Linked DNA regions of Homo sapiens. The protein of the gene in region 1 interacts with the protein of each later gene in a biochemical or structural test. Each region holds a gene or a part of one and is shown in the gene's direction. Other genes may lie near its edges.

Region 1 (3,653 bases):
GACCCTAGAACTCAGGAGTTCGATGCTGCGGTGAGCTATCATCGTGCCACTGTACTCTAGCCTGGGCAGCAGAGCAGGACTCTGATTCCAAAAAGAAAGCTAATAAACCAGACATGTATTTTGACTTTTCGTTCTCTTCATTCTTTCCCACCAGGCTTGGGCACTGTTTAAAGGAAAGTTCCGAGAAGGCATCGACAAGCCGGACCCTCCCACCTGGAAGACGCGCCTGCGGTGCGCTTTGAACAAGAGCAATGACTTTGAGGAACTGGTTGAGCGGAGCCAGCTGGACATCTCAGACCCGTACAAAGTGTACAGGATTGTTCCTGAGGGAGCCAAAAAAGGTAGGGGCTCTCCTGAATTTGGGTCACCTAACAGAGGCAGCCAGATCCTTGAGGCACCTTAACTTCATTCTGAGCATCACTTTCTAGCTTTCCTTTTGTATTGCCTGCCTGCCTGCCTTCTGCCTCACAGTGAAGCCCAGCCTCCTTGCCTGAGTTATGTGGGTCACAAGTTGAAATTCCTGTGGGGTTCAGCATAGGAGAATTAATCACACTGTATGCCTCAATGTATATGGGGGGGGGTGCATTGAATATGTGTTTTCCAGTTAGTCTTTCAAAAAAAAAAAGAAAAAAGAAAACTGGATAACTTGTTAAAATTTACTTATCTAATAGTCTTTAGTGAGTGACTATTTTGCAGAAAAGGAGTAATGAGAGGAATATCTCATCACTATGCATGGTAATAAAACTGTCAACTTTTAAAGTGTAACATGGTCAGCTGAGGTGTTTATTAAAAGTCAGATTCCTGGACCCCTCTTTTCAAGATTCTGACCAGTGTGTCTGGAAGAGAGCTCAGGAATCTGCATCTGGAACAAATCCTTCAGGTGACCTCACTTGGGAAACATCTGGCTGGCGGGGTCCTTTATGTCACAAGGCACATTCGCATGCCATCTGTCATGTATTTCTTTACCTGTCCTGTACAACTCAGACCTTGTAGAAAAAAATCAGTTTAATAGCATGAAAAAATAACTTCCCAAGGGAGTTGCTGAAAAATACCTTATTTGTCAACACCGTGTTATGCATTCTAAGAATTAAATGCTCAGGTATTTTTACAAGATTTGACATTTAGTTAGGTCAGTTCCTGTTTTTACGTTGTGCCATTTCCCTTTTCCCCAAACATGTAGGAGCCAAGCAGCTCACCCTGGAGGACCCGCAGATGTCCATGAGCCACCCCTACACCATGACAACGCCTTACCCTTCGCTCCCAGCCCAGGTATGGTGGAGGGCACTGGGCTCCCTGAGGGCGAGGCTGTGTGGGCCAGCTGCCCACATGGCCAGAGAACCACAGCAGCCCAGACAGCAGAACTTGCCATTTGCTATGGCTGCTCCAACAGCCCAGAAAAACCCCAGGTCACTGAACGAATGTCTCACTTTCCACACGGTGCTGCCATTGGTGTGGATTTTAAGTTGGGGAGGGTCGGGCGTGTCCGCCTGTTGGAATATGCTTCTCAGGTCTTCTGGGAAACAGATGTTTTGTGGAAGTGGAAGATTTTGGAAGTAGTGCCTTATCATGTGAAACCACAGGGCAGCTGATCTCTTCAGGCTTTCTTGATGTGAATGACAGCTTTGTTTCATCCACTTTGGTGGGTAAAAGAAGGCAAATTCCCCTGTGGTACTTTTGGTGCCAGGTTTAGCCATATGACGAAGCTTTACATAAAACAGTACAAGTATCTCCATTGTCCTTTATGATCCTCCATGAGTGTTTTCACTTAGTCTGATGAAGGGTTCACTCCAGTCTTTTCGGATGATAAAATGCTTCGGCTGTCAGTCTAATAAGGGATTCCCTGAGGAGTTTGGAGGCTGTAAGAGCACCCCCCGTCTCAATGCCAGTGCTTCTTATCTCAGCCTCTCCTGCACTCCTTTACCCCCGTCTCGATGCCAGTGCTTCCTATCTCAGCCTCTCCTGCACTCCTTTACCCCCGTCTCGATGCCAGTGCTTCCTATCTCAGCCTCTCCTGCACTCCTTTACCCCCGTCTCGATGCCAGTGCTTCTTATCTCAGCCTCTCCTGCACTCCTTTACCCCCGTCTCAATGCCAGTGCTTCCTATCTCAGCCTCTCCTGCACTCCTTTAACCCCGTCTCGATGCCAGTGCTTCTTATCTCAGCCTCTCCTGCACTCCTTTACCCCCGTCTCAATGCCAGTGCTTCCTATCTCAGCCTCTCCTGCACTCCTTTACCCCCGTCTCAATGCCAGTGCTTCCTATCTCAGCCTCTCCTGCACTCCTTTACCCCCGTCTCGATGCCAGTGCTTCTTATCTCAGCCTCTCCTGCACTCCTTTACCCCCGTCTCGATGCCAGTGCTTCCTATCTCAGCCTCTCCTGCACTCCTTTACCCCCGTCTCAATGCCAGTGCTTCTTATCTCAGCCTCTCCTGCACTCCTTTAGCAGGTTCACAACTACATGATGCCACCCCTCGACCGAAGCTGGAGGGACTACGTCCCGGATCAGCCACACCCGGAAATCCCGTACCAATGTCCCATGACGTTTGGACCCCGCGGCCACCACTGGCAAGGCCCAGCTTGTGAAAATGGTAAGGAGGATACCAGTGCAGGAAATAGAAGAGCTAATTGCTAATGTGGCCATGGGCCATGGCGAATCCTGGTCTGTCCTGGGCAGCACCAAAGCTCTTTCCCCTTCTTAGAGGCTGCGTGTGCAGCTCGGGGAGAGGGGGGTTTTCTCACTCCTGTGGGATGGTGGCATCCCACAGCCAAGTTTACTCTCAGGATCCATGCTAGGCACTGCCCTTCGTGGGATCTTATTTAAACACCACAGAGATCACTCCAGGCAGTGGAAAACAGCCCCCCACTTTTTATATAGAGAGGAGATTGTGGAAGCTCATAAATAATAAGTAGGGATGCTGGGAGATTATTGAGCTGGTATATTTCTCTCGAATAGTGGTGTGTTCATTGTTGCTATTGTTGGAATTAGAGGTGATACTAAAAAAGGAACGGAAAAATACCATGGCAAACACATAAAACGTCTCTACAGGTGCCTACCTACCACTGGGTCCCAGAAAGACTTGCTGATTGTGGATTAGATGTGGTCCCCTGCCCTCGGGAGTTCCCCAGACATCAAAATGAGCTCCCTCAGCAGAAGCTCTCATTAGCTGGGTGCAGGGAGAATCTAGCAATGCGGTAACTCAGGCCTTCAGGACTTTTGAGTTAGTTACTTAAATGGAAGTCCTGAGACAGGTCAACACACTGAACCCTTTGGATGTTTTAGGAATATTTGTTCCTTTGCAATTTGGCCTTTTTTTCCCCAGTCATGTTCAGGTTATCCTTGGCTGCAGGTAGTGAAGAGGTGTACCACTCTTTAATGTTTGTACTGAGTGGCATGTTCACAAAAAAGCTCAGAATTCAGTTGCATTGGCTTTTCAAGAGGGATTTGCAGCAAGGGCTGGTTTCCAATATGGTAGTGGAGGAATTGGCTAACATAAAACTAGCTCCTGAAATTCAGACTTGCGTTTACTGCTCTGGCTCTATGGAATTAGTAACCATGGGAAAGAGGCAATGCTTAGAACTGTGTAAAGTGATGGAGTAGGTAGAGACCTGTCTTGAAGCATCGGTAACAGTAAATGAAGCAGCAGCAAGATCAGGT
Region 2 (3,653 bases), on another chromosome or scaffold:
GGAGGGGGACAGGCTTATTGTGTGTAAAGGGACAGTGTCATATCTCAGGAATTAAGCAAGTTCGGAAAGGAACCTCCATGAGAGCCAGGGGTTGTGGGCTCTTAAATAGCACATTCTCCTTTTCTCAGAATTTCCATTTTTACTGATCAAGTATGTAGATTCTTTGTTTTAAATCTGCTCTTCTCTGTTACTTTTACACCACCTTTTGGAGTGGTCCCCATCTTTGCTAAAGTTACTTATTTGATACTTTAACTTTCACTTTAGACTGTGTGCTCCCCTTATGGAGCCCTGGAACCTAGCATGGTACCTGCACCTAAGAGACCTTTAGTAAATACTAAAGGAAAATTCATGATAGGTTTTTTTCTGGAGGAACGGAATACTTAATATTTGTGTTTATTATAATATTTGAAAATAGCTGGGCCTGGTGGCTGACGCCTGTAATCCCATCATTTTGGGAGGCCGAGAGGGCAGATCACTTTAGGGCTGGAGTTCGAGACCTGCTTGGCCAACATGGAGAAACCCCGTCTCTACTAAAAATACAAAAATTAGCTGGGCGTGGTGGTGCGTGCCTGTAATCACAGCTATTCAGGAGGCTGAGGCAGCAGAATTGCTTGAACCTGGGAGGCGGAGGTGGCAGTGAGCCGAGATTGCACCAATGTACTCTAGCCTGGGCAACAGAGTGAGACTCCACTTCAAAAAAAAAGGCAATTGACCTTTAAGTTGTGTTTCTTGGCCGGGTGCAGTGGCTCGCACCTGTAATCCCAGTACTTTGGGAAGCCGGGGCGGGCGGATCACGAGGTCAGGAGCTAGAGACCATCCTGGTGAACATGGTGAACCCTTGTCTCTACTAAAAATACAAAAAAGTAGCCGGGTGTGGTAGCACGCACCTGTAGTCCCAGCTACTTGGGAGGCTGAGGCAGGAGAATTGCTTGAACCCAGAAGGCGGAGGTTGCAGTGAGCTGAGATCACGCCATTGCATTCCAGCCTGGACGAAAGAGTGAGACTCCGTCTCAAAAAATAAATAAATAAATAGGGCCAGGTGCAGTGGCTCACGTCTGTAATCCTAGCACTTTGGGAGGCCAAGGCCGGTGGATCATCTGAGGTCAGGAGTTCGAGACCAGCCTGACCAACATGGTGAAACCCCGTCTCTACTAAAAAGATATAAAAATTAGCTGGGCATGGTGGCGCACACCTGTAATCCCTGCTACTCAGGAGGCTGAGGTAGGAGAATCGCTTGAACCTGGGAGGTGAAGGTTGCAGTGAGCCGAGATCGTGCCATTGCACTCTAGCCTGGGTGACAGAGTGAGACTCCATCTCAGATAGATAGATAGATAGATAGATAGATAGATAGATAGATAGATAGATAGAGTGGCTAGAGTGAGACTGTCTCGGATGGATAGATGGATGGATGATGGATGGATGGATGGAAGGAATGGATGGAATGGAAGATAGATAGTGTTTCTTACCAAGCTGTCTTCTTGAGTGTTGAGTGTGCGTTTCATTTAAGCCCTTTTCTCTCTGTGGGCCTAATGGTGAAGTTGCAAGAGTGAGAGACCATGTGCTGTGATGGCCAGTAGACAGGATGGCAGGGCTTCTGAATCTCATTGTGCCTGCAGGTGGCTCATTTAAGCTCTCTGAGACTGCCTCCTCATCGTGGAATAGCAGTGCCCAGTCTGCCTGTCTTGCAAGGGTGTGGTGAGAGTCACATGTGAATTCAAGTTAAATGCAAAGGAATAGATTTAACTTCATATACACAGAACAAAATCTGGAAGGAAACACCATAGTTATGTATTAAATAAAATTTTTAACATTGAAATGGTAGGAAATTATATACATATTGTTTTCCATTTATGTGCCAGGAGAAGATGAGGAAGAAATGGAGCATCAGGAAGAAGGCAAAGAGCAGCTTTCAGAAACAGAAGGCAGTGGGGAAGATGAGCCAGGAAATGACCCCAGTGAGACCACCCAAAAGAAGATCAAAGGCCAGCCCTGCCCAAAAAGGCTTTTTACCTTCAGTCTTGTGAACTCCTATGGAACAGCTGACATAAATTCACTTGCAGCTGATGGAAAACTACTTAAACTCAACTGTAAGCACTTTTTCTGACCTTTCAAGCTGGGCTTTAGGGTCTTAGGATCTGTTTGAAAATCCTTACACTTGACACTCACTGCATTGGGCTTTCACAGTCTCTGTGCCTCCAGGAGCAGCACTTGTATGACCCTTGGCTTGAAGCCCCCTAAGGACTGTTTCAGAGATCCCCCTACCTTTCAGGCTTTTCTCCTCAGTCCTCGATGACCTCAGAGGAAAGTAGGTCTCCCTCCACTCCCTCTGCGGGAATTTGCTGTGGGTCGATAACCTTTCCTGTGGCCACCCTTGGCAGCAACATTTCCCCATACTTGCTCACTTATAAGAATAAGCGCATATTTATTTTGTTCATTAATACTCACGAAATGTACCCATTCAGAGGATGGTCATGGATTTTGTAGCCTCACCGACACATGGAGGTTGTAATGGGGACTGCTCTACAGACAGGAAGAGGCATTCTGAGGGGTTGTGTGAAAAGCACAATTGGCCAGTGAGGACACCTTTGCCAGTTAGGGGAGGAGAAGCATCTCTGTCTTTCAGCTCCCTTCCCACCTCACCCTCCTGAGTAGCTGAGACTACAGGTGTGCACCACCACACCCAGCTAATATTTGTAGTTTGTGTAGAGACAGGGTCTCACTATGTTGCCCAGGCTGGAATGCCTTGCAAATTCTAGCCATCTTCTCAAACTCCAGTCTTTGACTTTTCAGCTTAATCTTCCCCTCTCTCCCCTATGCTAAGTCCTGGAAACTGCCTGCAGGCAATAAGCTAGGGCGATGTAGGGGTCTCTTTTTTTTTTTCCTTCTGTCAGGGATCTCCTTCCTGCTCTATCCAATGTCTGAAAACAATTGTTTCATCCATTTTGTCAGTTTTTTTGTGGTTTATGGTAGGATGATAAATCTGGTCCCTATTACTCCCATCTTGACCTGTGCCCTTTCAGAATTCTCCACAGTTAGTTCCTTCGTAGCTTATCTGTATCACTGAGGAAGTCTTTGCCAAAGGCTTTTTGGGGCTGGGGGTCAGAAGGGCTGGCCCATTGCAGAGCATTGCTCTTGACACTGGCTGCTGATGGGGGAGAAGGTGTTGATGGTGTGGCCTGAGTGTGGTCCTTCTCACTCCTGTCACTTGGAGAGCCTTTCCTGTTGCTTGCCATTCCATAACAAGTGACATTTTGGTCCTCCTCAGCTCGATCTACACTGGCCATGGATTGGGACAGTGAAACTCGGAGACTTTACTATGATGAGCAAGAATCTGAGGTAGGTCCCTCGGGGTTCGTGGTCGGTGGTGTCTGCTGGTTTCTGCTCTGGATGTGGACTGCGATCACTTTCACCAGTTGGACAGCAATTTAGCAAGTTATATTTAAGACTGAGAAGGAAAAGCACTTCAAGATTTTGTCATTTTATATTCAGAGGCTCTAGAAAGTGTACTACATTCCAGGTGGGAGAGCCTCTGTAGGCCTTCATGTCTTAATGCAGTAAGATCTCTTTCTCCAGCAGAACTGAGTGCTTTGATTCCCATAGGCCTACGAGAAGCATGTGAGCATGTTGCAGCCTCAGAAGAAGAAGAAGACCAC

The links. Proteins that work in one complex are often made in the same cells at the same time.
Region 2: of the proteins of IRF4 (region 1) and USP4, one has a biochemical effect on the other in vitro, tested with the Homo sapiens proteins (one study listed by BioGRID).

What each region holds. Positions count from the first base shown.
Region 1 is NC_000006.12:394,667-398,319, forward strand, and holds part of IRF4 (interferon regulatory factor 4), read left to right. Parts: intron 1-154; coding exon 155-341; intron 342-1,180; coding exon 1,181-1,269; intron 1,270-2,441; coding exon 2,442-2,586; intron 2,587-3,653. UniProt on the Homo sapiens protein: Transcriptional activator. Binds to the interferon-stimulated response element (ISRE) of the MHC class I promoter. Binds the immunoglobulin lambda light chain enhancer, together with PU.1.
Region 2 is NC_000003.12:49,284,532-49,288,184, reverse strand, and holds part of USP4 (ubiquitin carboxyl-terminal hydrolase 4), read left to right. Parts: intron 1-1,859; coding exon 1,860-2,087; intron 2,088-3,265; coding exon 3,266-3,336; intron 3,337-3,600; coding exon 3,601-3,653.